Linked DNA regions of Homo sapiens: region 1 is linked to region 2. Evidence: fine-mapped expression QTL. A gene starts in region 2. The other region holds a variant in brackets. All regions are shown on one strand. Distances are from middle to middle. Region 1 overlaps CLOCK (clock circadian regulator). Region 2 holds the start of CLOCK (clock circadian regulator).

The links. PIP is the estimated chance that this variant, and not a neighbour inherited with it, causes the effect. A credible set is the group of variants that fine-mapping cannot tell apart.
Region 1: its variant is the best candidate, but not a certain one, in a credible set for the expression of CLOCK in whole blood (INTERVAL, PIP 0.61).

What each region holds. Positions count from the first base shown.
Region 1 is chr4:55,461,365-55,477,012 of GRCh38, forward strand. It overlaps CLOCK (clock circadian regulator), which reads right to left. Exons shown (of 23, transcript NM_004898.4): 7 at 14,599-14,690; 8 at 9,353-9,442; 9 at 2,321-2,441. Among named protein-coding and RNA genes, the nearest start is that of TMEM165, 73 kb to the left of the region's middle. The variant T/C (reference allele first, on the strand shown) is at 9,036.
Region 2 is chr4:55,537,391-55,553,038 of GRCh38, forward strand. CLOCK (clock circadian regulator) reads right to left here and starts at 9,519. Exons shown (of 23, transcript NM_004898.4): 1 at 9,392-9,519. LOC124900704 (a long non-coding RNA gene) reads left to right here and starts at 8,475. Exons shown (of 2, transcript XR_007058122.1): 1 at 8,475-9,220; 2 at 10,226-10,499. It also overlaps the pseudogene RN7SKP30. RefSeq lists silencers at 8,515-9,144, 9,265-9,364, 9,425-9,794.

The DNA.
Region 1 (15,648 bases), 76 kb before region 2:
AAGGTACTGCTGCTCTTTCTAGGCCAGAGATGCTGGTGAAAGATGCTTTCATTGCAATGAAGACCTGGACCTCCATGAGGCAAAACAGCTGTTACAGGAAAAGTAGTCATAGCTACTGTACCAGGCAGGATGGCCAGCTTGATCATCAGAATGGTCTGATCCATAAGATCTCTGGTTGTGTTTAACTGAACCCTAGGAATGAAACTGAGGAGTAACTCCATAAAGCTATCACTTGATTTGTATAGTAGGAAATCTGCAGGTCAGGTGAGCACAGCCTGAGTTGAGCCACTATGATGAGAAATCCAGGGCTCTTATTCAGCTCTCAGACTCAGGGTCTCTTTATGAAGCAGAAGCCAGGTAAGCCTGGGGTAGGCAACCCACTGCTGCAAGTCTTCTTCCTAGCCTTCTCCAAATGAACTTTCCACTATTTACCTGATTTTGTTTTTCCTTTTTTTGCAGATAACAAAACTACCCAAATCTCCTTCACTGGCTCTCTACTCTGTAAAAAATAAAACTCAAATTCCTTAGCCCCTTTATAATTCTGTCCTTATTCTTTCTCTAGACACAAATTTTACCACCTGTACAACCTCAACTTCATTATGGCCAAAATGACCTACCAAATTTTCTAAGCAATTTTCTCTGTGTTTTAACTTGTGTTTATTCTTTTGGCATGAAACTTTCTTTTTTCTGGGGCAAGAACTCTTTTGTATATCACTTGTTTAACTAGGAGATCAGCAAGCCATTTAATTAAGACTTTTCTTAAGTATTCTTGCCATTTTCATTTCTGTTCTTGGAAGCAGAAGCCTAAGCTCTTTCTGCCAAAGGCTTTTATTTAGTTCTCCAGTCGATTTTATTCTTAGTAGGGTCTTCAAAGCAAACGCCTTCTCCTTTGTCTTCCTATTGCTATCTCCAAAGGGTTCCACCTTTCTTTCTTTTTTTTGAGACAGAGTCTCGCTCTATCGCCCAGGCTGGAATGCAGTGGTGTGATCTTGACTCATTGCAAACTCAGCCTCCGGGGTTCAAGCAATTATCCTACCTTAGTCTCCCAAGTAGCTGGGACTACAGGCATGCACCACCATGCTCAGCTAATTTTTGGTAGAGATGGGGTTTCGCCATGTTGGCCAGGCTGGTCTCAAACTCGTAGCCTCAAGTGGTCTGCCCACCTCAGCCTCCCAAAGTGCTGGGATTACAGGCATGAGCTACCGGGCCTGGCTGGCTTCCACCTTTCTAATTTTTCTCTCCTTGTTCTACGTATTTACCTCAAGCAATCCATTCCATCCATGGCTTCAAATACTAATTGTAGGTATCTATTATATACAGCCTAAATCTTTCTAAGTACCAGACTAGAGTGGCCTAATGGTCAATGTCATATGAACTTGGTTTTAAAACAAGGCTTGAAATGAATTCTCCAACTCTAGTTTTTCTCAACTCTCGCTGAAAGGCCATCCACTCTTACCAAAGTTATAGATACACACAGATTTGTGTGAGTGTGTGTGTGTGTGTATCTCAATTTTTAGACAGTATGCTATAGAATTTGAGGATTCAAATACAAAGAATCTTTAAGATAATGTCAGTATTAGCAGATGAGACACATTTAAAAATAATGAAAAAGGTGATTAAACAAGGTATCTAATAGCTAATGGTGAAATGTACTGCTGTAACAATTCTGGATTTTATACAGGGTAATATATGAAGAAAATGAGGTACTCCGGTCAAATAAATTTGTCAATGGACCTAGTAGAAATGTCTGATTCTACCATAATATGTTGTGTATCTTGATGGTGATAACTATTTTCACTATTGTTGATATTTTTATGATACAGCACAAGTACCTAGCAAATTAGATACATCTAACAAATGACTGTTTAATTGTTTAATAAAGTAGATAATTTATCTTTATATTTAATAATTTTAAAAGAAACATAGAAATTTTTTCCAGTTTGAGTGTCCAATTGGTTAACAATGGTGAAAATTAGAATGTTTAATTTTCCCTTATTAAATACAGTAAAGTTTTATTTATAAATTAATAACTATATATTGCCAGGTCTCACTTTTGCATAAAATACAGCTTTATGGCATAATGGGAGTCCAGGATTTATTATAACAAATAAGATGGGATTTCAATATACACTGAAATAGATTACAGATTTTTAATATGGTCACAATTTCATTTTATATATATTTTAATATTGAAAAAGGACCTAATAGGGCATATGGAGTAATGCTGTATTTAAAGAAGTCTGTATTTTTCATAAACTTGCAAAAGGATAGTGCTACTGAATACAACATTTGACTTTTTTGCTTAACAGCTACTACTTACATTTTAAATATTCTGGGGTTAATGAATCACTTTCCAGCAGATGAGTAGAGAGTATTTTATAAACCTCTGAATGTTCCCCTTCTGGGATAAAATTAAATATACTTTGATCCACAAGATCAGACTGAAAAGAAAATTGTTAAAAGTAAAATAACTTCAATGATTCAAGAGACAATTGCTTTAAAAGTACATAATCGCTATTAAACACAGCAGTTAACTTTCAATTATCTGTGAAAACCAACAAATGTCAAGTTATAGACCAAATCTCAAAAAATAAGATTGAGATCATACTAACGTCATCCAATCCATGACCAATATGACCTTGAAAGCCTGATAAATTATTTGCAAAGCTGTGTTTCACCAAAATGTTCTGAACATTTCAAAATACAACGGGACCAAGAGAGTTAATAAGAAAAATCTCTGGCGACAAGTCATAGCCTTACCATATACTCAAACCTATGGTAAACAATGGTGGTATATCCTACTATAAAGGACTATGCACAAGCTAAATAAAGAGGAGATTTTGTTTTGGTGTGATTTCAATTGTCCAATGTGTCCTTTATTTCATCTTTTCCTGGCATTTATCCTGCATCCCATTGTACAAAAGCCTTGTGTTTAGTTATCCCCCCTCAAAAGGACAACTAATATGTTAAGCATTAGAATTCTTGTTAATACACAGCTTTAATCGTGATTAATCAATAGCAATTTGACAAACATCAGGTTGGCTACAATGTGCCACGGCTGTGGAATCAAAGATGAATAAGATAGTTTCTATACTTAAGTACCACTGATAACAAAACTTCCATGACTTTACATTTGCCACTACGCATTCTACCTGGTTTCCTGCGTTTCAAACTGCTCTGTGGAATCCTAGGGATGCTGAGACAGTATCTCAAGGCCTGTAAAGGTAGGACTAGAGGGTGGGGAAGTAAAAAGGAGCTGAGAAGCAGGGCCCAGGGTCCTGCCCCTGCATTAAACTAAAGCAGTTATACTTTTTGTTTTTATTTTATGCATCTGTGAAGATTTTGTTTGAAGAGCTCCACTGCTTAAAAACAAAAAACATACAACAACAAACAGAGGCAGTAAGAATGGTGAGAGGGGAGAAAGGGGTGTTGTATTAGGTTGGTGCCATACTTTTAATAACAAAAACCGCAATCACTTTTGCACCAACCTAATACTATTCTTCATATAGGCCACACATTCCCATCATTTCTTCTGTCTTTTCTCCAGCCCTCCAAGCCCACTCCATGAAGTGAGATGACCTTCCCCCCTCTCTACATATCTGTATCTTTCCCCTTTCAAAGACCAGTTCAAATTACTTCTTTCAAGAAAGCATTCCCTTAACACCATAATCCACATTAAAAATAAAATTCTTTTATTATTTATTACTTGTATTATTCATTTCCCATTTAGCAGAATTCAGCCAACCATGGATCAAAACTATTCAGGAAAAACAAAAAACAGATGGTTGTGTCTGTACTGAATACGTGCATTTTTCTAATCGTTCCCTAAACACTATAGTATAACACATATTTACATTGTATTAGTTATTATAAATAATCTAGAAATGATTTAATGTATGTAAATGGGAAGATGTGTGTAAGTTACATGTAAATACAACACCATTTTATCTATGCGGCTTGATGATCCATGGATTTTGGTATCTGCAGCGGGTCCTGGAACCAACCAATTCCCCCATGGATACCAAAGGATGACTATATTTTAATGTCTATGTCCTGTTGCCCTATAGCTGAATAAAAGGGGCCTATCTCTTACACCTTTATCTTTCTCACTTCCAATCAGGGCACATTAACACCGTGCCTTGTGTTTAACAGTTATTAGTAAAATAAATGATTTTAGACTAAGGAGGTATTTGATAATGGCTTAAGGGATAACCACACCAAAAATATATCTGTATTTCAGTAAAGGATTTTTCTGGAAGTCTGAAAAGCCTCTACAACTAAAGGAGTGAACTAAAAATTCAGGGATGGCTGGGTGCAGTGGTCATGCCTGTAATCCCAGCACTTTGGGAGGCTGAGGCAGGTGGACTGTCTGAGGTCATCAGTTCAAGACCAGCCTGGCTAACATGGAGAAACCTTGTCTCTACGAAAAACACAAAAATTAGCTGGGCATGGTGGTGTGCACCTATAATCACAGCTACTCAGGAGGCTGAGGCAGGAGAATCGCTTGAATCCAGGAGGCAGAGGCTGCAGTGAGCTGATATCCTACCACTACACTCAAGCCTGGGTGACAGAATAAGACTCTGTCTCAAAAAATAATAACAATAAATAGGCCTGAATAACACAAATGCTAGAAAGTTGCCTTCTACTGACAAAATAAAGAATCAAAATATAGTATATGATATTGATGCAAAAAATAATCTGATATGGTTTGGCTGTGTCCCCACCCAAATCTCATCTTGTTGTTCCCATAATCCCCATGTGTCATGGGAGGGGCTGAGTGGGAGGTGATTGAATCATGGGGGAAGTTACCTCCATGCTGATGTTCTCGTGATAGTGAGTGAGTTTTCCCAAGTTCTGATGGTTTTGTAAGGGGCTTTTCCCCTTTTGGCTCAGCACTTCTGCTTCCTGCTGCCATGTGAAGAGGGACGTGTTTGCTTCCCCTTCCGCCATGACTGTAAGTTTCCTGAGGCCTCCCCAGCCATGCCAAACTGTGAGTCAATTAAACCTCTTTCCTTTATAAACTACCCAGTCTTGGGGAGTCCTTTATAGCAGTGTGACAACAGACTAATACATCATCTTAATAGAAAAACATGCCACCAACTTGAAATATTAATAGGAACTAAAATTTTCATTTTTGAGAATGATTATAGTTTTCTACTATTATTTGTTACTAACAATTTCTTCTACTACTATTTGGTAAATTATGATGTGACCTATCTTATCCTTGTTTTTTCATCTATAACTTCATAGGATGTTTCATATTCATAGAGAAAAGAAAATGAATGCCTGTATCAAGAGTAGTATGATCACAAGCAATGCCTGCCCCAACAATTCTGCCTCTCCTGCCACTTTAATAGGTGTCAAACTTTCCATTAACCACTACACTTAAAATCTCTAAATGAGGCTGACCATACTTTATGTGACCATACATACACTCAGTTCTCAAACACAATCAAACGTAAGAAAAGAAAATGGTAACTACTTGGATCTTTTTATCTCCCTTACTCGTTTCATGAAAAGGAAATATAAGTTCTGCTGATTTACTTATATGACATAAATCAGTAGCCTTTGTTTTTTCTACATTAGGTCAACGTTACCATTTAGTGATTGGATGACACAAACAATTTTTTAAAATCTAGAAGATGTTAATAACAGAGGAAACTGGGTATAGTGCACATGGGAATTCTCTGTACTACCTTGTCCATTTTTCTGTACATCTAAAAATGGTTCTAAAATTAAAAATATTTTTTAAAATGTCCAGAAGAAAATGGGAAGGTGACAGGGTTTTTATTGAGGGAAGTGTTAATCAAACACTTCAATTCCAATGAGATCTATCACATGTTGTCTATTTCAAAGGGCAATTAAACTCACTAAAGATTAGAAAGGGATTTTTTTAAAACAGTCAAATCAAGTAGCACACTCATTTTCATACATTCAACAAATAATCACTGAGTGACGCTCCAAGGAACTAGCTAGCTCCTCTGGATGCAGAGATAAAGTTCCTGCCTTTAAGAAGCTACAACTACCATAACTATCCAAATAAACAGAAAATTATAATTCTCTGTATCATGACAGTAGTACATACAAGGTAACAGTAGAACAGAGATGAAGGGCATCGAATTTTGAATGGAATTCAAGCAAGTGCCAAGAAGCAGGCTTTGAGAAAGTGTGAACACATTGCAAATGATGCTCTATGACTAGATTATATAGTTTCTGTAAACATGACAAAACCTAATACAGTTATATATGGTTTAAAAGCATACAATTATACTTATTTTAAATTACTTAGACATTATCTTAATCCTATAATGGGATTCTTTCCCTGGGTTTTCTTGCTATGAAAACAAATTTTTTTAAGTTGTCCAGAAAACTCAGTTAATCAGTCTGTCCTTTTTTCTGCCTATGCTAGTTTACTTATGCATTGCTAATATCTCATGTTTTACTCTCAAACATGTTTTTAAATGTTGGGCTTATCCTACTATTTGAGCTTACTAGAAAATAAAGCCCCAGAAGAGCAGTAAAGTCAAAGTTATTTTCTGTATGAACCAAAGAAATTAGCAAATTATGTACTGCATGGCTTTCAACTTTAAAAAATGCCCCCTTGAGAGCCTGGACTTTTAAGTGCTAAAATCCATTGATTCTCTTTATAAGGTATGAAGTATCAGAGTAATCAGAGGGAGAGAAATACCACTTTTCAGTATCTCTTGAAAGAGACACTTACAAGCAGAATTACTTTACCCTGTTATAGAGATAAGCTATTTTTTTAATTTTTTTGTAGAGACAGGATGCTTCACTGTGCTGCCCAGGCTGGTCTTGAATTCCTGGCCTCAAGCAATCCTCCCACCACAGCCTCTGAAAGCATTAGCATTAAAGGTGTGAGCCACTGCACCCAGAGAGAGGCATTATAAGAGTAGTTTATAAGTAACTTTAGAATATTTATACCATGAGCTCCATCTTCAATAACATCATTACATATTAAAAACTGAAAACTCCCCCCAAAAGCCTATCAGCTGTGGCACAGCACCTAGCATGGTGTCTGGCACAGAGCAGATATTAATAAATACACATTAGAAAAAAAGTAAGCACATAAACCAGGTATTCACCATCCTAATGAAACAAAATATACTTTTCTAATTCTCTATCCTTCTGGTCATATAGATAATGAATTAAAATATGGCCAATATGACATTATCAGTTCAAAGTCACATAGCATAAAAAGTTCTGTATCTACTATTTTTAGAGTGTTTTTTATAAGTAATTCTATTGAGAAAAATATTTACAAGTTGCCCTAATTGCAACAAGTATCTCAGCAGAAATTTAGTTATTCTCAAGACATTCTCAGTGATTTAACATTTTCAACAGGCTGATTAAAATGGAAACGCTAAAAAGTTAGCATTAGAATAAAGAAGACAGGAAGAAGAGGGGTCAGATAAAGTGGTAAGACCTTGCACTGCATAACAATGTTTTGGTCAACATTGGACTGCATATATGACCACCGGTGGCCCTAAGATTACAGTGGAGCTGAAACATTCCTACTGTCTAGTGATGTCATATCTGTTGTAATGTCATAGATCAATGCATTAGTCATCCTTTGCACTTGTGCTTGTGGTGATGCTTGTGTAAACAAACCTACTGTGCCACCAATCATATAAAAGTTTAGCACATAAAATTATATACAGTACACATGTACATGATAATAAACAATCATCTTACTAGTTTATGTATTTACTATACTTTTAATGATTTAGAGTATTCTCTATTTACATTTTTTTTTTTTTGAGATGGAGTTTCGCTCTTGTTGCCCAGGCTGGAGTGCAATGGCTCGATCTCGGCTCACCGCAACCTCTGCCTCCCAGGTTCAGGCGATTCTACAGGCATGTGCCACCACGCCCGGCTAATTTTGTATTTTTAGTAGACACAGGGTCTCTCCATGTTGGTCAGGCTGGTCTCAAACTCTCAACCTCAGGTGATCTGCATGCCTCGGCCTCCCAAAAGTGCAGGGATTACAGGCATTAGCCACCACACCCAGACTTATATATATATTTTTAAGTTAACTCTAAAACAGCCTCAGGCTGGTCCTTTAGGAGGTATTTCAAAAGGGCACTGTTATTACAGGAGATGACTCCATGCCTATTGTTTCTCCTGAAGACCCTCCAATGGGACAAGATGTGGAGGTGGAGGACAGTGATGTTGATGATCCTGACCCCGCGTAGGCCTAGGCTAATGTGTGTATGTTTGTGTCTTAGTTTTACAAATGTTTAAAAAGTTAAAAAAAGTTTTTTAAATAGAAAAAAGCTTTTGAAATAAAGACATAAAGAAAGGAAATATTTTTGTACAGCTATATGATATATTTGTGTTTCTGAGGCAGGGTCTTGCTCTGTCACCCAGGCTGGAGTGCAGTGGCACCATCACGGCCCACTGTAGCCTTGGCCTCCTAGGCTCAATGCAATCCTCCTACTAGAGCCTCCGGATTAACTGGGACCACAGGTGCATACCACGACACTTGGCTAATTTTTATGTTTTTTTAAAGACAGGGTTTCACCATGTTGCCCAGGCTGGTCTCAAATGCCTGAGCTCAAGCAATCTGCCAGCCTTGGCTTCCCAAAGTATTAAGCTAAGTGTTACTACAAGAGTAAAAAAGTTAAAAAAAAATTTTAAGTTTACACAGTAAAAAAGTTATAATAAGCTAAGGCTAATTATTATTGAAGAAAACATTTTTATATAAAGTAGCCTAAGTGTACAGTGTTTATAAAGTCTATAAAGGTGTACAGTACTGTCTTAGTCCTTCACATTCACTTATCACTCACTCACTGACTCACCCAAAGCAACTTCCAGTCCTGCAAGTTTCATTCATGGTGAGTGCCCTATACAGGTATACCATTTTTTACCTTTGAGACTGTACTTTTTATTGTACCTTTTCTATGTTTAGGTATTTTTAAACATATAAATACTGTGTTACAACTGCCTATAGTAGTATTCAGTACAGCGGCATGCTGTACAGATTGTAGTCTAAGAGCAACAGGCTATATATACCA[T/C]ATAGCCTAAGTGCGTAGTAGGTTACACATCGAGGTTTTTATAAGTATACTCTATGATGTTCACACAGTGACAAAAGTGCCTCAGAACATATTCCCATTATTTAGTGATGCATAACTATAGTTGAATATTAAGTTACTACAGATTAGTTATGACTGAGCTGAGAAAACACATGCTGAAACAAAGACATACTTAGAGCTCTGATTCCTACCCCTTTAACGACTGTTGTACACTGCTCTCAAAGTCCACTTCCCAGTGCTTTAGAATATTTAAAATAGGCATTTTAATACGAAGTAGATTGTAGGATCTTTATACTTACTGGTAAATGTTCAAGTAATGAAGTTACACTCTCAGACACATATATTATGCTTCCATCTGTCATGATTGCTAAAAAAAAACCATCAAGAGCCTGAAATTAAACATAATGATATGTTAAATGAAAAGAAAAAAGTATTTTGCAGGACAGAAATAAAAATTTGAGATAAATGACAAAGGATTTAATATGGAAATATCCAAAGTTCTGTCAAAATATAATACTAGCTTTCCCCCTTTACAATACCTTGGTATGTATCTTTGTTCATTTTTAAATGCTTCTGGAGAAAAAAAGTCTCTCTCTGGCCATCTATTGGACAACTGGTCTCTAAAAGATAGAGACAATGTTCTACCTTCATCACTAGGTATATTACATGATCCAATCATGTATATACAGTATTATGGCTTATTTGAAGATGCTAATGTCTCCAAAGCATACAAGACATCAACAATGTTTTGTAGGCACACAAAGGAATACTTTGTTATTATCATGGATATGTTAACACAGAGGTGTACATCTGAAGTTTAAGGAGATATATGAAGAATAAAATAAAAGGGAGTAGCAGGAAATTAAGGTGAAAAATTAGGCTGAGTTCATATCATAAAAGGCTTTGAATATAAGGTTAAGACATAAGAATTTTATTCCGTATACAATGGTAAGCCAACAGAAGATTTTAGGGCAGGGGGCTGTGCTTCAATAAGAGTAGTGTGGAAGCAGGGTGTAAAATGGATTTAGAGGGAAAAGAAAATTCAGTTAGGAAAATCATAGTGGCTTTTGGACTAATTAAGGAAGTTAATGGGAATCTGAATGAAATCAGTAGTATTAGGAATAAAGAAAAGTACTTCGAGCAAGCATTGAGAAATGTGAAGTTCGATTTCAGAAGAGAAGTCAGAGCAGGGAGTACAAGACTTAATAAAAATGCAATTTTGTATTTTATACACTACAATGTATTTTCATTTGAGAATCCTAGGCACAGAAGTGACAGCTGAAGAAATGAGATCTACAAAAGACAAATCCTGGAAGAATTATCTACATATAAGGGATGAGGAAGAGAAAAAGGCCAGAGAAAATGACAGAGAAGCCTGCGTGCAGTGGCTTACGCCTGTGATGGTAGCAATTTGGGAAGCCAAGGCGGGAAGATCACTTGAACCCAGGAGTTTGAGACCAGCCTGAGCAACATGGCGAAACCTTGTCTCTGAAAAAAAATTAAAAAATTAGCCAGGTGTGGTGGCACATGCCTATGGTCCCAGCTGCTTGGGAGGCTGAGGCGAGATCACTTGAGCCCAGGAAGTTGAGGCTGCAATGAGCCACGACCATGTCACTGCACTCCAGCCTGAGCAACAGAGTGAGACCCTGTCTCAAAATAGTAATAAAAATTGAAATTACAAAAAAGAAAATGATAGAGAAGACAGAATACACTGTCGTCAAGGAATCAATGGAAGAAAGAATGACAAAGTGAAGAGGAGAGGAATGGTTTGGTATAAAATGAGATAAAGAATAAGAAAATGAGAAATGAATTTTGGTGATTTTCAAAAAGTTATGTTAACAGGAAGGCAAGTCGGACTACAATGAGTTTAAAAATGAGTACAAAATCAGAAGGCTATTACAAGTCACTCATTCATGAACTTTAGAAGGGAAGAAAAAGGCAAACAGTTCTAAGGGGGTGAAGTATCAAGAGAAGGCATTTGAAAAAAGAGCAAGTATATTTGTAGTCTAAGGGAAAGGAAGATCCAGTGGAGAAGAAGTAGAAGATACACAGCACAAAAGATACTATAAAAGGGATTCTTCTATTAAAATGGTCAATACACTAAATTCTAATTTCTTGTTTACTTAAATGGCTCTCGAAAAGGATAGTGACCTCTGATAGGAACCATGTATATCTTATTAATCCTTGTATCTGCAGCACTAGTGTAGCGCAAGTAAAAATACTTGCAGTATATAATTTATAGAGCTGGGAGTTAGAGTAACCTTTCCTAACTCTATGTAATTGACGAATATATAGAAAATGGTCCCCTCCCCCTTGTCCCCCCCCTTCTTTTGGGAAAGAGATCTGGATATCACAAAGAACTTATTTTAAGTAGATGCCTATCTTCTAGAATGGCTCAAACAAACCCAGTCTTTGCTAATATAGAAGTAGAAATCTTGTCATTCGAGCAAACTCATGAATTATTTTTTTAAATCCTTTAGTACAATAATGCCAGTATTATTATTTCATAATAGGGTCAAAAGTAGACAACTGTTCGCCAGGCTTACACCTGTAATCCCAGCACTTTGGGAGGCCAAGGTTGGTGGATCACCTGAGGCTGAGTTTGAGACCAGCCTGACCAACATGGTGAAAGCTCGTCTCTACTAAAAATAAAAAAAATTAGCTCGGCGTGGTGACACATGCCTGTAATCCCAGTTACTTGGGAGGCTAAAGCGGAAGAATCACTTGAATCTGGGAGGCAGAGGTTGCAGTGGGCAGATTGTGCCACTGCACTCCAGCCTGGGCGACTAAGCAAGACTCCGTCTCCCAAAAAAAAAAAAAGAAGACAAGTGTTCCTCAATTTCCCCATCTGAAAGCAAGAAACAGATACTATTGTCTACTTCATAATACCAGCTATTATGACACACAGATACTAGTGTTTACTTCATAAGAGTATTGTAAGGATTCAGTGAGTTAATATATAAAAATTATTCACTTATTTTTCTGATTTAAAGTACAGGTTTAAATGTTTATAATATATTTATACTCTAACAAATTTTCGTATGGTAACATTTCTGCTGAATACATAAAGAATTAATCACACAATTAATTGTCCCATCTAAAATACAAACAGAAAAATAACTCAATTTGCAAAATACTCTACCTTGCTTCAGACTTGAGACGTGGCTATAATCTATTTATACAGGCATACCTTGTTTTATTGTGCTTCGCTTTATTGAACTTCAGTTACTGGGTTTTGTTTTGCTTTTTGTTTTTTCACAAAGTGAAGGTTTGTAGCAACCCTGGGTCAAGCAAGTCTATCAGCATCATTTTTTTTAATAGTATGTGTTCACTTTGTGTCTCTTGTGTCACATTTTGGTAATTCTTGCAATATTTCAAACTTTTTCCATTATTATTATATCTGTAATGGTGATTCGCCCACATAAGGTGGCGAATTTAAATGTTGTGTGTGCTCTGACTGCTCCACCAACTCACTGGCCATTCCCCCATCCCTCTCCCTCTCCTTGGAGCTCCCCATTCCCTGAGACATACAACAATACTGAAATTAGGCCAATTAATAACTCTACAATGGCCTTTAAGTATTCAAGTGAAAGGAAGAGTCCCTCATCTCTGACTTTAAATCAAAAGCTAGATGTGATTAAGCTTAGTGAGGAAGGCATGTCGAAAACTGAGACAGGCCAAAAGCTAGACCTCTTGCAACCAAACAAGTAGCAAAGTTGTGAATGAAAAAGAAAAGTTTTAGTGAACACATGTATGATAAGAAAGTGAAAACAGCCTTATTCCTGATATGGAGAAAGTTTGAGTGGTCTGTACAGAAGATCAAACCAGCCACAACATCCCCTTAAGCCAAAGCCTAATCCAGAGGCCTTAATGCTCTTCAATTCTGTGAAGGCAGAGAGAGTTAAGGAAACTACAGAAGAAAAGTTAGAAGAGAACAGAGGTAGGTTCATGAGGTATAAGGAAAGAGGCCATCTCCATAACATAAAAGTGCAAGGTGAAGCAGCAAGTGCTGATGTAGAAGCTAGAGCAAGTGATCCGGGAGACCTGGGTAAGATCATTGATGAAGGTCGCTACACTAGATACCAGAGTTTCAGTGCAGATGAAACAGCCTTCTATTGGGAGAAGATGCCATCTAGAACTTTCGTAGTTAGAAAGGAGAAGCCAAAGCTGGCTTCAAAGCTTCAAAAGACAAGCTAACTCTCTTGTCAGGGGCAAATGCAGCTGGTGACTTTTAAGTTGAAGCCAATGTTCATTTGCCATTCTGAAAGTCCCAAAGCCCTTAAGAAGTATGCCCTATAAATAGAGCAACAAACCCTGGATGACAGGACATCTGATGACAGCACATCTGTTGACAACATGGCTTACTGAATATTTAAAGCCCACTGTTGAGACCTACTGGTCAGAAAAATAGATTTCTTTCAAAATACTATTGCTCGCTGACAATGTACTTGGTAGCCCAAGAGTGCTGATGGAGATGTACAAGGAGATTAATGTTGTTTTCATGCCTGCTAACACAATACCCATTCTGCAGCCCATGGGTCAAGGAATAATTTTGACTTTCAAGTCTTATTTAAGAAATACACTTCATAAGGCTACAGTTCCCATAGATAGTGATTCATGTGATGGATCTGGGCAAAGTCAACTGAAAACCTTCTGGAAAGAATTCACCCGTCTAGATGGCATGAGAAGATTTCTGATTCATGGGAGAAGGTCAAAATATCAACATTACCAAGAGTTAAGAAGAAGTTGATTACTTGTGGATAACTTTGAGGGGTTCAAGATGTCAGTGAAGGAAGTAACTGCAGATGTGGTAGAAACGGCAAGAGAATTAGAATTAAAAGTGGAGTCTGAAGATGTGACTGATTGCTGCAATCTGCTAATAAACCCGAACTGATGAGGAGTTGCTCCACTGATGAGTAAACAAAGTGATTTCTTGAGATCGACTCTACTCCTGAAGAAGATGTGAATACTGTTGACATGACAGCAAAGGATACAGAATATTACATAAATTTAGTTGATAGAGCAGCAGCAGGGTTTGAGAGTACTGACTGTAATTTTGAAAGAAGTTCTACTCTGGGTAAAATGCTATCAAACAGCACTGCATGTTACAGAGAAATCTTGAAAGGAAGAGTGAATCAGTGTGGCAAACTTCATTGCTGACTCATTTTAAGAAATTGCCGTAGCCACCCCAACCTTCAGCAACCACCACCCTAATCAGTTAGTAGCCACTGACACTGAGGCAATACCTTCCACCAGCAAAAAGATTAAGACTTGCTGAAGGCTCAGATGATTGTTAGCATTTTTTAGCAATAAAGTATTTTTAAATTTAGGTATGATCAGTATTTTTTATATAATGTTATTACACACCTAATAGACTACAGGGAAACAAAACAATTCATGTGACTCATTTTACTGAAATATTAGCTTTATTGCAGTGGTCTGGAACTCAACTCGCAATATCGCCAAGGTACACCTGGATATTAAGTCACCCTGTGATTTCTTTTTTGAGGAAAATAAAACTTTCAAAAATTAAATCTGGACATACCTCTAACATTAATTGTGTAAACTCTTCATTACTAAGGAATGTAGGTTTCCAGTCCTGTCGAATTTCACTAGCATCTGACTGTGCAGTGATTTCTGTAAACAGATTGACATATTAGTGGCATACTCCAACCACCGGAGGAGTACAAAAGCCCTACAAGTTATCTTGTCTCTTCCCATTCTAATTAAAGATGACAACCGTAGGCATTAACATTTATTGGGTAGATATCAAGAGGTCCAGGTTTTGGTATGATGAAATATTTGAGATAACATGGCAAGTTATCTCCTTGGATTTGGTCTCTTGGTAATACCAGTCTCTTCGGTTTTTCTCTTGGTACTCTGATAGTTATGTTGCTGATGGGCCTGAGATTGCTTCCTATTTGACACAATGACCAAAGAAGATTTTTGCTCCAAGAATTTTGAAGCAATTCTTTTTTTCCTTTTCCTTCCCTTGCCATTCAAATAGCAATGTCTAGAGCAGCACTAGGGAAATTAGCTGAAAAAGGCCAAAGAGGTCACTAGGTTTGCTTTCAACAAAGAATGCCTTAGGCCTGCCTACTGCTGGGCAAAAAGCTTCTTCCCAACATTAAGTGCTCTATCTTAATTAATCAAAGAGACTAAATTAATATTTTATGCAAAAACTTTACTACAGTAATATTCCCACAGTGATTTTTCTTAGTGTCCTCCTTGTACAACAGTAGAGAGATGGTGAAAAATTTGGAGATCCCTGCTGTGGGACATATGTTTGTCACAATTATTACCATTTTATTTCACTACATACTTCTAATAGATTTAGTTATGAAAAAGCTATTCATAAATGATGAAACCTAGTAACAAATGTTTTTCTATTTTTTAATGTAGACATATTAAAACAAGCAGGCAGAATAAAAATCTATGTCATAGACTATATTCTACAAAATATACTCTAATTTGTAGTAAGAAGTATAAACTAAATTCTGATTTTATCATCAGATAGAGAAATACAGCATACTGTCCCTCATCAAAAGTTAGCATATTAGAAATGCCTGTAGTGGAATATGAAGAGTAACTAAGA
Region 2 (15,648 bases):
AGTGGATTGCCTGAGCTCAGGAGTTGACGACCAGCCTGGGCAACATAGTGAAACCCTATCTCTACAAAAAATACAAAAATTAGCCAGGCATGATGGCACGCGCCTGTAATCCCAGCACTTAATAGACTCTGGTGCGAGGATCTCTTGAGCCTGAGACGTCGACACTGTGGTGACCCCGTGATTGGGCCACTGCACTAAAGCCTAGGCAACGGAGTGAGACCCAGTCTCAAAAAAATAAAAATAAAAATAAAAAATTAGCCAGGCATGGTGGCACATGCCTGCAGTCCCAGCTACTCAGGAGGCTGAGGTGGGAGGATCACTTGAGCCTGAGAGGTCAAGGCTGCAATGGGCCATGATCACGATACTGTACTGCCTGAGCAGTAGTGAGACCTTGTCTCAAAAAACAAATAAATAAATTATAAACAATTAAAGGGAAGTTTATAGCATGCTTACATTAGAAAAGAAAAAAGGTCACAAATCAATGACCTCAGCTTCTATCTTAAGAAACCAGAAAAAGAAAACAAATTAAACCCAAAAGTAAGCTGAGGAAAGGAAATAAAGACCAGGGCGGAAATAAGAAAACCACAGGCAGTCAATTAAACTAAAAGTTAACTTTTTAAGAACCTCAATAAAATTAATAAACTTCTAGCCAGACTAATCAGGGAAAAGGGGAGCAGAGACAAATTACTAGTATTCGGAATGATACTAAATCTCTACAGGTTATACAGATATTAGACTCATTACACTTTCTACAGATATTAAAAGAACAATAATAGAGTATTATAAGCAACTTTTTGCAATAAATGCAACAAGTTAAATGAAATGGGTAAGTTCCTTCGAAAACTTATCAGGCATGTGAAGAGACGGAACAATACAACCATATGACCAATAACCAACAGAAAAACAAACAAGATAAACAGACCAATAGATGATGCCGATATTGGAAAAGACAAGCATTTAAATAACTATAATTAGTATGTTCAAGAGAACTGGAGTCTATTACAAGTCTATAAAACAACATCAAAGGAATACTCTAGAACTCAAAACCACAATGTAAAATTAAGAACACAAAAGATTATTTTGACAAAAAGAGAAGATAGTTTTGGCATACTGGAAGGCAGGTCGATAGAAAATATCCAAACAGAGAAAAAAATTTTTTTCAACATGTGGAACATGATAATTAAGTTTAATATATGTGTAATTAGGATCCAAAAAGAAAAAAGGGGCAGAATATATGAAAAGGTGGTAACAGAACTTTCCAAAACTAAAAGGCATCCAGCTAGATTCAAAAAACTCTATAAACATAAAGCAACAAAGAAAACCACATCTGAACACATCAAAGTGCTTTAAAAGTAACACAGAGAGTCTTAAAATTAGCCAAGGAAAAATAAAAGACACATTATCCTCAGCAAGAATATAGCTAATACATTGCCTTCAATAAGACTGGTAGCTGACTTCAACAAAAAGAAAGGAAGACAGAAAGCAACCAAACATTCTTAATGTGTTGAAAGAAAATAACTACCAACTTAGAACTTAATAGCCAGTGAAAACACACTTCAGGCCAGCCACAGTGGCTCATGCCTGTAATCCTAGCACTTTGGGAGGCCAAGGTGGGCAGATCACTTGAGGCCATGAGTTTGGAGACCTGCGTGGCCAACATGGCAAAATCCTATCTCTACTAAAAATACAAAAAATTTAGCTGGGTATGGTAGCACATGCCTGTAATCCCAGCTACTCAGGAGGCTGTGGCATGAGAATCATTTGAACCCAGGAGGCAGAAGCTGCAGTGAGCTCAGATCACGCCACTGCACTCCAGCCTAAGCAACAGAACGAGACTGTCTCAAAAAAACAACAACAACAACAACAAAAAAAACACCAAAAACCACTTCAAAAAAGGTGAAACTGCCGTGCATGGTGGCTCACACCTATACCCAGCACTTTGGGAGGCCAAGGTGGGGGGATCTCTTAAGCCCAGGAGTTCAAGAACAGCCGGGGCAACATGACAAGACCCCGCCTATACAAAAAATTTAAAAATTAGCTGGGCATGGTGGCATGTGCCTGTGGTTCCAGCTACTGAGGAGGCTGAGGTGAAGGATTGCCTGAGCCCAAAAGGTTGAGGCTACAGTGAGCCATGTTCACACCACTACACTCCAGCCTGGGTGCCAGAGTGAGACCTTGTCTCAAAAAAAAAAAAAAAAAAAAAAAAAAAAGGTGAAATTGAGATATTTTCAGAGAAACAAAAATAGAAAAAATCACTGATACTAGGTAGGCCAGTATCAAAATGCATGATATAGGGAAGTGACAGTATTATTATCCTAAAAATTGAAAACAACTTCAATGTCCAACAGAAGATTGATAAGTAAATTATTACACAGAGATGAGAATGTTACATACCTACTAAAAATAATCACATAGCAGAAAAATACTGACATGAAAATATGTTGATGATTCACTGTTAACTGAACAGCTTGCACTGCAGTGGACTACATTAGGAGCCCATAACATCATATAAGTATACATATACTTATGTAATGGCTCAACAAAATGCAGGAAGCAGATAGATAATCAAGAAGATTAACAACAGCACTTTCGGTGGTATGATCTCCAATGATATTAATTTTTTTTTTTTTTTTTTGAGACTGAGTCTTGATCTGTCGCACAGGCTGGAGTGCAATGGCGTGATCTCTGCTCACTGCAACCTCTGCCTCCTGGGTTCAAGCAATTCTCCTGCCTTAGCCTCCCAAGTAGCTGGGATTACAGGCACCCGCCACCATGCCCGGCTAATTTTTGTACTTTTAGTAGAGACAGGGTTTCACCATGTTGGCCAGGCTGGTCTCAAACTCCTGACCTCAAGTGATCCACCCACCTCAGCCTCCGAAAGTGCTGGGATTACAGGTGTGAGCCACTGTGCCCTGCCTAAAATGTAATCTATGCTTTCTTACTGTTTCCCACATTAGGGATGTGCTATTTTTTAATTGGGGGCAAGAGAGGAGGGGAGAGGAGGGGAGGGGAGGGGAGGGGGGAATGGAGAAAGGCAACTCTTTACATTAAACCATATTTTAATACAAATGATAAGTTCTTAGCTAGGCATATGGTCTAACCTTTATTGGTATATCCCCCATGTGTGCTTTTTAATTTTTTTTTGATACCAAAACCTGCCAACATGAATCAACCTGTACTTTCATTTTCCACTATTTGGACCTTGAGAGCTTGCTCGAAGGTTCTAGCAGGGGAGCGCAGCTGCTCGTATACCCTTGACCCAAGACCAGTCCTCCTCTATTTGGGATGGTTGTCCTCTTCAACCAAGCACGCAGCTTCAGCTTCAGGAGGGACGCACGTGGAGTGGAGAGGGAGGAAGGGGACACCTGCCGAGCCAGCCAGATGAGCTGAATCAACCCTGGGGATCAATGGGGTAACATGTCACAGCCAGATAGCCCTCACATTCAATTTTCCACTATTTGGGATGAGAATTAAAAATGTTAAGTACCTGAATGTGACCTCTTTGAAAAAGAAACTTAATCGTCGTCATTATTAATGTAAAAAATGAAAATGTTTCTGAAAAATGAAAAGCAAATTATATCCGAAACAGCATACTTTAAAAGACAAAGTAATTCATAAAATTTCATTTTTCACAAGTGATTTCTGTAGACTTCTAAGACTTAAAATTAACAGAATTACATCTCTGTGAAATATCCAACTAAAGTAATAACTCAGAGTTGAGGCTATAAGAGTAAGTTTAAATAATTCAACATTTGCATAATCAAAAAAATGGAAAAAAACAGGAATCTCGGTATCCACCTGTTTCACAGAAGTTACACCTAATAGGGCTTTTAATAAATGGTTGTAAAGCAACCTGTAAATATAAATGCCATTATGTAATTATAGTCAATTAGTAACAATTATATTGCTCTGACACTTGAGTGTTCTATAAATAATTCATACAACTCCATCTAGAATTTTTGATCCAGAAAAGGAGAAAATGCAACAGCCATTGGTGTAATGCCTACAAGGAACTTAAAAAATATTTTACTTTATGCATCTGTAAAAAACTATAAGGAAACAGATAAACATCAAAAGGTTTAGCTACAGTGCAGAACTTTGACTTTTCCCCCACAATATTGTTTTATTAAAATAGTCACAGTAAATAAATGCTTTATTTGACACAGCACTAGAAGTAAAAATGTGTGGAAGAGGTGACATAATATATATGCTTCAAGATTGAGATAAGAGGAAACAATTTTCTTTTAATATTAACACTGGCTGACATATTTGATGGTAGACAACAGTTAACTGATAGGATTTAATTTCCTAATTTTTCTAGCAATCCTGAAATGATTAAAGAGGCTGTATTATAATTATCAAATAAAACATCAAATGGTTCTTTCCAGCGGGAAAGCTTAAAAAAAACTACTGAAATAGCTATCAGTCTCACAGATGCCTGCTAAAAGAACATAACAACTCCTTACGTTATCAAGAGCTAAGATCTAAGTTTCCTTTCTTAACTAATTAAAAGGTTAAGATACGTATTCTCCCTCAAAATCCCATGCCTCTCCCCCCACCAAAAAAAAAAAAAACAGCCAGAAATAGGCTCATCCTTACAAATGTTGTATGTAATTTTCTTATAAAATCTATCATTTTCCACCTTGTGTTATAATGTCTATGCTTTTCAGTTGGGCATGGTGGCTCATGCCTGTAATCCCAGCACTTTGGGAGGCCGAGGTGGGCGGATCACCTGAGGTCAGCAGTTTGAGACCAGCCCGGCCAACATGGAGAAACACCGTTGTCTACTAAAAATACAAAAATTAGCCGGGTGTGGTGGCAGATACCTGTAATCCCAGCTACTCTTGGAGGGCTAAGGCAGGAGAATCGCTTGAACCAAGGAGGCGGAGGTTGCAGTGAGCTGAGATCACGCCACTGCACTCCAGCCCGGGTGACAGAGAGAGACTCTGTCTCAAATAATAATAATAATAATAATAATAATAATAATAATATTATTATTATTATTATTATTAATGTCTATGCTGTTTTAACCATACTAGATTTCAAAACCACTGAAGGCAGGGTCAATTATACTGCATCTTTCTAGGTATCTCCCATAGTAAATAGTCTTGATCAATACTCTGAACTTTTTGCAAACTCCATCAGCTAAAAAGAATTAAGGTTTGGTAATTCTTTGTAACCTGGTTTAAAACAAACCCTCTGGAACTATTAGAGAACCAGAGGGATGGATGGAGGAGAGGGTAGTGCATATTAGTTGTTTGTTGTCAGTTAAGCAAAAGCCAAACCAAAGAGCCTCTTCTCTCCTTTTCCCTTCAAAAGCTAAATTTTATCCAAGTCAGTATCAGTGTCCCTTAGTTAAGGACAGTCTGCTTAGGTTCACTTCAGAGGAGCTCAAGAGGCTGGTGTAATCTACGAGGCTTTCGTAGGAGTCTGCAAGCAAGTACAGAAGGAAAAAAAATCAAAGTTTAACCCATACACTATCGATCAAGTCAAAAGCCAAAGAAAACCCTAAAACTTGGACTCTAAAGAGTCCTATAAAATTCATGGAATCCAAGCACCTTTTGGGTTTGTTTTGTTTAAAACAGGGTGTCACTCTGTCACCAAGGCTGAACTCCTGGGTTCAAGTGATCCCTCCACCTCAGCCTCCCAATTAGCTGAAACTACGGTGTGCACCACCCCATCTGGCTAATTTTTTTTAAAAAAATTTTGTAGCAAAGAGGTCTCACTATGTTGCCCAGGCTGGTCCTGAAATCCTGGGCTCAAGCCATTCTCCCACCTCGGCCGCTCGAAGTTTACAGTGAATTAAATCTATACCAGATAAAACTCACATCAGTATGACCTCCCTTCAAACTCTGCAAATGCCTCCATAACAATTGGCCCCTCACTAGTGAAAAGATGAGTATGACCTATGGTCTATATCAGATGTTAAGCTTTCTGACAGGCTCCAAGTCATGTCCCTGTCCTGTAGGTAATAACAGAGCCCATACTGGAGGCAAAATGGCAAAGCAGATGATCATTCAAGATGATTCCGTTTTCAAGGCTGAAAAGAACATATTTGCAAATGCACAGAAAAAGATCTACAAGATCATACAGTGGTGTTAACAGTGTTACCCTTCAGTCAAGGGTATACGAGTAGCTGTGCTCCCTAGATTCCTCTGGGGAGGAATGTGAGCTAGAAGTGGATGTAAAGGGGTTGTCACTTATTATATATACACTGTATTAACTTTTTATGAGCATCAATTTACTTCTGTAATTTTAAAAATAAGAGTCCCAGCTACTCGGGAGGCTGAGGCAGGAGAATCTCTTGAACCTGGGAGCCGGAGGTTGCAGTGAGCCAAGATCGTGCCACTGCACTCCGGCCTGGTGACAGAGCAAGACTCCGTCTCCAAAAAAAAAAAAAATTGAAATGTAATTCCATTTTTAAAAAAGATTGAACGGACCCACATGGAATTCAAATGAAAAATAAGTGACACTTTGCAGAAGTCTATTAGAAAAACCTACATATCAAACAGAAATAATATAAGTATCCTATCCTACAAAATAAAAAGGAATACTGGTAATATTACAAAAATGCCCACAGCAACTGCAATCCATTACTCACTATTCACTACTTTCATTACACAATATTAGTCACCAGGGGGAGTTTGAGGGTCCCCTCCCAAAATTATATCTCATCTAACAGCTGCCTGTGCAGTCTTAACCTCATTAAACAGGTTTTCAACAATCCAGTCCTAAAAAAATGTTCATTTTGTACACTTTCATGAGAAACAACCAGACACACACACACACACACACACACACACACACACCCCAATTTACCTTTCACTGGGGTTCATGTTTGATTTCCTCAAAAGAAAGAAAAGTTTCCCAACCTGAAAAGCAAACTAACCTAGACAATCAAGTTTACTAGCACTTTAAGGGAATGTTCACATCCTCCTCATAATTGTTTGTCATGAAACTTTGGGGTTAAGTAAAATTTTACCCATCTATGACTCCTGAAAAAAAGAGGAGGGGGAAACACAAACTACACTCTGAAAGCAGCATAATCCAGCCATAATGCCAAATGTAAACAGTCATATATTTTAGCAAGGCAAGATATAACTAAACATCTTTAAAAGATAAATGCCTGTGACCTCTGCAATCTTAAAAATTAAAGTGTAAATAGTCATAAAAGGTATCCCAAACTTCCTTTTTAGTTGATTTTCCTAAAAAATATGAAAAGCAATCATATTGAAAATGACTCAAATCACCATAAATTAGGCAACAAAAATCACACAAATTATTTGGGGGAGGAGGATTTTTGTTTAATCCAGTTTATGAGTCCATAATACACACAAAAATTTGAAAACATGAAGACATACACATAATACATCTCATTTCCCACCATTCCCTCAGACTATTTCTCCCTCTCCTCTATTGTTAGTTTTCTAAATCCTCCCATAATTTCTTTATATAAAGAGCAAACATAAACTTGTATTATTACACCTCGCCCTTAAGATGTAACACACTATTCACAAAGTACCGCTACACCTTGCTTTTTTCACTTCATAGCAAATTTTTGCAATCTTTGCATGTTAGTACGTAGAAAGCTTCCTTATTCTTTTTTCATAACTGATTACGCCTAGCTTTAGAACATTTTCAGTCTGCTTTCTTCAGGCTAACTTTTTTTTTTTTTACTTTTTTTATTATTATACTTTAAGTTCTAGGGTACATGTGCACAACGTGCAGGTTTGTCACATATGTATAAATGTGCCACGCTGGTGTGCTGCACCCATTAACTCGTCGTTTACATTAGGTATTTCTCCTAATGCTACAGGCTAACCTTTCAAGACATTCTGTTCAGCCAACCACTTATCACAGGAATTAATTTCCTTCCCCCAAGCTTTGAAAACCAATCAGATTTGAGGTGTCCCAAGGGATAAGTTTCAGAGAAAGCAATTCATTATCTAAATTACATCCTTTTAAGAATGTTTATTTTCAAACAGGTAGAGGGGAATATTGCACAATTTTCTCTAATCGCTTAAAGCTACAAATCAGAACGCAATCTTCAAAGTGAAATTACCTTTGATTTGGGGGGATCAGCGTTATAGTCAAATCAACGACTGTAAAAGTTTACTTCTTGTGCTTTTCTTCCACTGTAAAAATTTTTTTATTTTTTAAAGAAGGCTAAAAAGCCTTAAAGTCTAATAGCACGGCATTCTAATAGCAGGAAACCACAATCTGATTTGATCTTTCATCTGCCAGGTCAGAGACTAGGCTTTTATCTTGCAGAATTAGGCTCACCTACCATCAACAAGAGGACCTCTACAAAGCTACAAACACTTTCAAAGAATATAAACTCTGCGGCGCTGCGTGTAGGAAATTACACTCCAGGGGCCAGAGCGCCAGAGCCAACTCCAGAAAACCCAGCTTCACTGGCGGAAAGAAATCTACAAACGCCAGCGGCGGTGACGGGGAACGGGAAGCGCGGGTGGACGGAAGAAGAGAAACCGAGCGCCTCGCCGCCAACCCTCGAACCCGCGCGCGGTCGCTGGAGTCAGACGCTAATAGCCGCGCGCTGCCTAGGAACGGAACCCCGGAACCACCACCACTAACGGAACCAGCCCGCGGCCGGCAACGGCGGCCGTTCGGACTGCGGACTGCGGCACGCGGGCCGGGCGCCGGGAGGGCGGGGGTTCCCCGGAGGAGCTGGCCGCCCCGGCGCCCCATTGGGCGCTGCTCCAAACGTGCCCGAGTGGTGACAGGAATAAAGTGGGTCACAAGGCCTAGCGGGTCCCCAGCGAAAGCTCTCTCGGCACCCGGTCCCCGTCTTTCCCCGCCTCCCAGCTGCTGGAATCGGCCGCAGCTCCGGGCGCCCTCAAGCCGCCCGGCCCCGCCGTGCACCCCACTCCCGCCCCTGCCCCGCAGGTAACCCCAGCTGCCCCAGAGGGCCTCTCAGGCAGGGCGGGCCTCGGCCCGAAGTCCCGGGAAAAGACACACTAGAACGACACGCCAAACTTGGGCTTCAGCTCCCGCCTTCCCCACCCTTGGCCGCCGCCCCCCGGCCCCACACACGCCGCCCCCCGCTCCCTCCCCTTCCCCGCGCCCTCACCGTGTGGCTTGCGGCGGCTCCGGCTTCTTCCCTCCCCCACCCAGGTCTCCCGCTGCGGTGACTCGGAACCACTACCCCGCCTGTGTCCAGGAGGCGCCGCGGCTCCCACCTCCAGCAGCACCTGGGGCTGTGAGTGGCGCCCCCCACCCACCCCCCCAAAAATTCGCCGCTCCTGTGGCCAGCTCCTCCTCCCCCTCCCTTCCCTTCCCCTCCTCCACCAGCCCAGGAGCGCGCATGCGCCGCCAAGGAAGCCAACCGGCACTCGGCAGGCCCTGGGCCCACCGGGCGGGCGCCTCTCACCGGGAGCGCTCGCGGCGGCGGCGGCCAGATTTCCTTCGCGCTCTCGCTCTCCGGGGTTTCCTTTTTTAAACCGGCAGCCGCAAGCCGAGTCCGTGATTGCGCCCCCTCCCGGCGCATGCGTCGTCAGCGACCCCGCGGGCTCAGACGGCCGGCGGAGGCTCTGCGCTCGCCCCTCCCCTCACTCTCCCTTTCCCCAGCGCGGCTCGGTGCGCATGCGACTTGCCCCGTTAGGCAGCACGGAGCCGCGCCAGGGGATCCCGGACGCCCGAAGAGACTCCCGCGCCCCTTGGGCCGAAATCTGGCTCTGCAGGCGCACCGTTCCCTGCCCCGGCCGGGAACGGCGCCGGTTACTAGAAAGCCGGGGAGGCGGGGCCTGGTCGGGTGGAGGGCGCGGCCGGCCGGCAGAGCGCTAGCCTTAGGTCCTGGAGGCTCTTTGGCTTTCCCCCCGTATGCCGGGGGCTAGGAGGAGGAAGAAGAGCTTCCTGCCGGATGAGGGATCCAGAGGCCAGAAAAGGAACCCGCTCTCCCTTCCAAAGCAAAACACTGCCGACGCCAGCTTAGATTTTTCGGGTGTTGGCAGGAGACTTTTTCCCCCAGTGGCATCATTCGTGTTTCCTCTCCTGGTGCTGGGAGAGAAGAGTTGCAAAGGCGCCTGGACCGCCAGTAACATCTTCTCCCATCTCCTGAGGGAGCGCGGCTTGGGTTGCTTCTTCTTGGTGGGTGGGCCTGGGGAGACAGGGCATGCGCCCTCGGCCAGAGGAGGGAAGCGAAAGGAGGTCGGGATTTATTTGCTCATTTGGAGATTTTTCCCTTGCCCTTTTATTAAAAATCAAGTGACAGTGTAATGGAAGATGGAGAATGAAGCATCAGAAATAAACCAGGACCCTAATTTGCATGGATTTCCTCGTTGGAACAACGTGTGACTACTACTTATCTTCGGGAAATTACTTATCTTGATGCGTTAAGGCACATTTGGTCCACATGAGAAAGCACATTTCAGTGCTTCTACTGGAAAAGAGATCTTTACAGTCTTAATTCCTAGTAATTCCTATGTTTTAATGAATATCTTTTGGATTTGAAATAAAAGCCATCTTTTTCTTTCAAAAAATGCACTTTTCTGGCCGTAAAATCCTCCCTTTAAAGTAACAGTCACCTCAGTAAACATTTTCAATTCTTGCTGTATGCTCTGGGCAAAAGAACATCAAACTGAAGCACTTATTCAGATCCTTGATCCTGCACCTAAGGATTTTTCTTTCAGGAGTGGGAAAACATGATTTGTTAATTTACCCCATCATATAGCAGAAGATATTTTGGTCGACATTTTTGCCTGTTCAGCATTCATTCCCTATTCTGATAATTTCTTTTGAAGAACTATCATTTATCCACTCTCAGTCCATATGGTCTGAGCAGGACACAAGGGGAAGGCATATTTGAGTTTAATCCTCGGTTGCAAACTACGGTTCCTAAGAAGGGTGTTACGTCTTTACCAATGGGTTTAAATCTGGGAGAATGGAGACCTGGAGCCATCTTTCCACACGTGAATTCTGAGAAAGAAGGCAACACGGAAAAAAAGCAGATTTGAAGACAGGTTTGGCCTAAAGACATGTTTGAGGCCTGGAAACAAATGTAGATTAGATTCCTCTGGAAATTTCGTTAAACCAGTCAGTAAATTCTTGCATCTGTTTTATTGCTTAAACCAGTGAGAGGTTTTCTTTCACATGTAATCAAGAGTCCCGACTGACAAGAGGTAGGTAGCAAGACGGAGGCAAAGTTATTAATACTGATAAGGTAGGTTGCAGCCAGACAAGAGAGGGCTTGAATGCTTTCCCTAGGATGGATTTTTGAATTTTATTCTAGAGACACTGATCCCTCCTTATATTCCCCATCATCTAGAACATATTATCTTCAAAATACCTTTGCCCTTTTTAATGATTTCATTGTCCTCTCAGTCACCAAGATCAAACCATGTCCATCTTTGACTCCTCCCTCTTTCACTGTATTTAATTATTTACCAAGACCTGTTGATAATCCCCCGTTTTTCTGCTCAGTCCTCTCTCACTGCTTGAACATTTCCCATGGTTCAGTTCACAGCTTCTCCTTTCTCCCACATTCTCTCCAAGAAAAGAAAAAATGTACTGGATATGTCTTTTTTTTGAGACAGATTTTTTGAGACAGAGTCTTGCTCTGTTGCCCAGCTGGAGTACAGTGGCATGATCTCAGCTCACTGAAACCTCTGCCTCCCGGGTTCAAGCAATTCTTGTGCCTCAGCCTTCCAAGTAGCTGTGATTACAGACTCCCACCACCACACCAGCTAATTTTTGTATTTTTAGTAGAGATGGGGTTCCACCATGTTGGCCAGGCTGGTCTTGAACTCCTGGCCTCAAGTGATCCACCCACCTCAGCCACCCAAAGTGCTGGGATTAACAGGCGCGAGCCACTGTACCCAGCCTGTATTGGATATTTCCAATAGCTTTTCCAACTTCCAGATCCCACATTTCCATAAAACAAAAATCCTGCCTCATAATTTCATAGCTCCTAAATTTATATTCCATAGCCTTAAACATAATTTCAGATATTCTGTTCACCCTTTCTTGTGAACCTTGCTATCATTTAAACTGAGTATTTCCAACTCCTCTGTCAACTGATTTCCCCCAGTTGGTAGGCAACGTATCATAGTGGTTAAGAGTACAAAATTAGGATCTTAACTGCCTGGATTTAAATCATAGCTTCACCACTAATATTCTGCATGACTTTAAGCAAGTTATTTCTCTGTTCTTTAATTTCGTCATCTTTAAAATGGGATAATTACAATCCTATCTCATAGCTTAACCGAGACAGTGTGTGTGTCTGTGTGTGTGTAATTTTATCTGGTACATAAGAAATCCCATAGAAATGTTGGCTATTCTTGTCAATGATGTTCCTTTTTGGGTAATTTTCATGTCTCTTTTGCTCTAATTCTTGCCCTAACTCCTATGTCCCATCAGTCACAAAGTCATATCTGTTCTTTCATAGTAACTCATCCATTCATTGACATTCCTAGTTTTACTACCATACTTTAAGGTGAATTGGAGAACAGGAAGCTTTAAGATATGCTTAATAGAGAATATAAGGTTAAGTATTTTTTTAAAGCTTGCATAGTTTATTCAGTTACTCATATTCTTTCTAATCCCTTTAAAATGGAACTACAAAACCCTGCCTCATAGTTGAGGTAGTATTATAGACTTTGTGGTCAAAACTCTTGGCTTAAATTCTGACTCATGCTGAGAGATAGTGAGCAAATCAAGTAATTCCTCTGAGCTTCAGGTACTTATCTGTAAAGTTACAAGACTAGGCATTTCAGAGAACTGTGATGATCAAAGGTAAATTAAACTGCTACATAAAGGCTAGGTGGTGACGATGGTGGTTGTAAATCTTTACAATTTCTTGTTGGAACCCTAAGAATAGTTGAAATGACTCACAGATTTTTAACTCCAGCCTTCACTTCTCCCTTGGGCTCTATACACACGTCTGTTTATCTACCTGATGTCTCTTCTTCTGTATCACAAATATCTTGGATGCTTCTTTCAATCTATTCTCCACAGAGCAGTCAAATTATTTTGAAAATATAAGTGAAGTCACATTATTTTCTTCTAAAACCCCTTTTGTCATTTCCCATTACATACAAATTCCTAATTATGGTCACAATAACCTGTTTGATCTGGCCCCTCCCTACCTCTCCAACCTCATGTCTTACCATTTTTTTCCTTTTCCTGTGACACTCCAACCCAGAAACTGCCTTTCATTTCTTTGCTAATTTATCTCTGCTCTCAGGCTTTCATGCATGCTGTGCCCTTGCCTGGACCCCTCCTACCTTTTCTCATGGCTGGCTCCTTCTCAACCATCACATCTCAAAGATCTAACTACCCTATTTAAGTAGGTCTCCCTCCAACACCCCACCTGCCCCCCCACCACCAATAATATCCAAAGTTATTCTCTTCTGTTGTGTCCAGTTTCCCCCATAATACTTAAGTTTAAATTATGTATATATTAGTTATATGTATATATGATATTTGTTTTCTTATTAACTATTTTCCCTACCACCACAAGATAAACTCCAGAAGGGCGAGAACCATGTGTTTTCTTTGCCACTATACGTGTAGCATCCATTTCAATACCTCAGGTGAGCTGGGTAGAGTGACACGTACATGTAGTTCCAGCTGAGCCGGGAGGATTGCTTGAGCCCAGGAGTTAAGGAACAGCCTGGGCAATGTAGCAAGACCCCATCACTAAAATAAATTAATTAAAATTTAAAAATAAAAACCAGGTTGGGTGTGGTACCTCAAGTCTGTAATCCCAGCACTTTGGGAGGCCAAGGCAGGCAGATCACTTGAGGTCAGGAGTTTGAGACCAGCCTGGCCAACATGGTGAAACCCTGTCTCTACTAAAAAATACAAAAAAATTCGCCAGGTGTGGTGGTGCATGTCTATAGTCTGAGGCTTAGGCAGGAAAATCACTTGAACCTGGGAGGCAGTATCTGCAGTGAGCCCAGTTCGTGCTGCTGCACTCCAGCCTGGGTGACAGAGCAAGAGTCAGTCGAGGCAGGATAATCACTTGAACCTGGGAGGCAGAGGCTGCAGTAAGCCCAGATCGTGCTGCTGCACTCCACCCTGGGTGACAGAGCAAGTCTGTCTCAAACAAACAAAACCACCAATGCCTGAGGTGAATGAATGATTTAATGAGTGAATGAAATGCCAGAAAGATGATTTTTAGAATCATCTTTGTCCCAAATTATGACTGTAGGCAGATTATTGTCAAGGGGTAGCCTTAGTAATGTGCATGAAAGTGTGTCCGGAATTTATTCCTTCCGGTGGGTTCCTGGTCTCACTGACTTCAAGAATGAAACCATGGACCCTTGCAGTGAGTGTTACAGCTCTTAAAGATGGTGTGTCTGGAGTTTGTTCCTTCAGATGTTCAGATGTGTCCAGAATTTCTTCCTTCCAGTGGGTTTGTGGTCTTGCTGACTTCAGGAGTGAAGCCGCAGACTTTTACAGTGAGTGTTACAGCTCTTAAAGGTGGTGTGTCCGCAGTTTGTTCCTCCTGGTGGGTTCATGGTCTCGCTCACTTCAGGAATGAAGCTGCAGACCCCCACAGTGAGTGTTACAGCTCATAAAGGTAGTGTGGACCCAAACAGTGAGCAGCAGCAAGAGTTATTGTTAAGAGTGAAAGAACAAACCTTCCGCAGTGTAGAAGGGGGGGCCGAGCAGGTTGCTGCTGCTGGATTGGGTGCCAGCTTTTATTCCCTTATTTGGCCCCGCCCACATCCTGCTGATTGGTCCATTTTACAGAGCACTGATTGGTCCATTTTACAGAATGCTGATTGGTCCATTTTACAGAGTGCTGATGGTGCGTTTACAATCCTTTAGACACAGAGTGCTTTAGACATAGAGTGCTGATTGGTGTGTTTACAATCCTTCTTAGCTAGACACAGAATGCTGATTGGTGCGTTTTTACAGAGTGCTGACTGGTGCATTTACAATCCTTTAGCTAGACACAGAGCGCTGATTAGTGCATTTACAATCCTTTAGCTAGACACAAAAATTCTCCAAGTCCCCACCCAACCCAGAAGCCCAGCTGGCTTCACCTCTCAAAAGTACAAAAGAGAAGCAAACTAAAATCAGTCAGTGAAATATGATGTGACTAATACCGTTCTAGTGATTGAATACTTGAGAACCAGCAAGAATATGTAACACTAATAGATACAGCTAATACTTGTAAAAAAGATGCTGACTGAAATCTAAAATAGGGTACAAGTGCATGAAGTACCTCAACTTCTAAACAGCTGCCAACATTTGGGGTCAGATACCCACTCCTTCACCCAAGGATAAAAGTTGGACAAAAAGGGATCTACCATAGCCAAAACCTCCAACTCTCTACCCTCAGACCACATAAGTTCAACACTTGGCAAGAGGAAAAACACCTGACAGAATCACTGAAGCCAGGTTCCTGGGGTGTACTATGGTTTTTCCTTTCCTTTTTATGCCTCACCCTATCCCAAGTGAACAAGACTCCAACAGAATCAGCTAGGTGACTATGAGGGAGGGAGAGTGGCATCTCATTCACTATCAAACTTGCTGATATTGCCTTGTACCTACATGAAACAGGAAAAGAGTTGGAGAAATAGCTGGCCAGGGAGTGGGCTGAAATAAAGCAATCTGCAACATCTACCATGTGGTATAGCAAGGATACCGAGGATGTGTAAGTTTCTCATGGGTCAATCG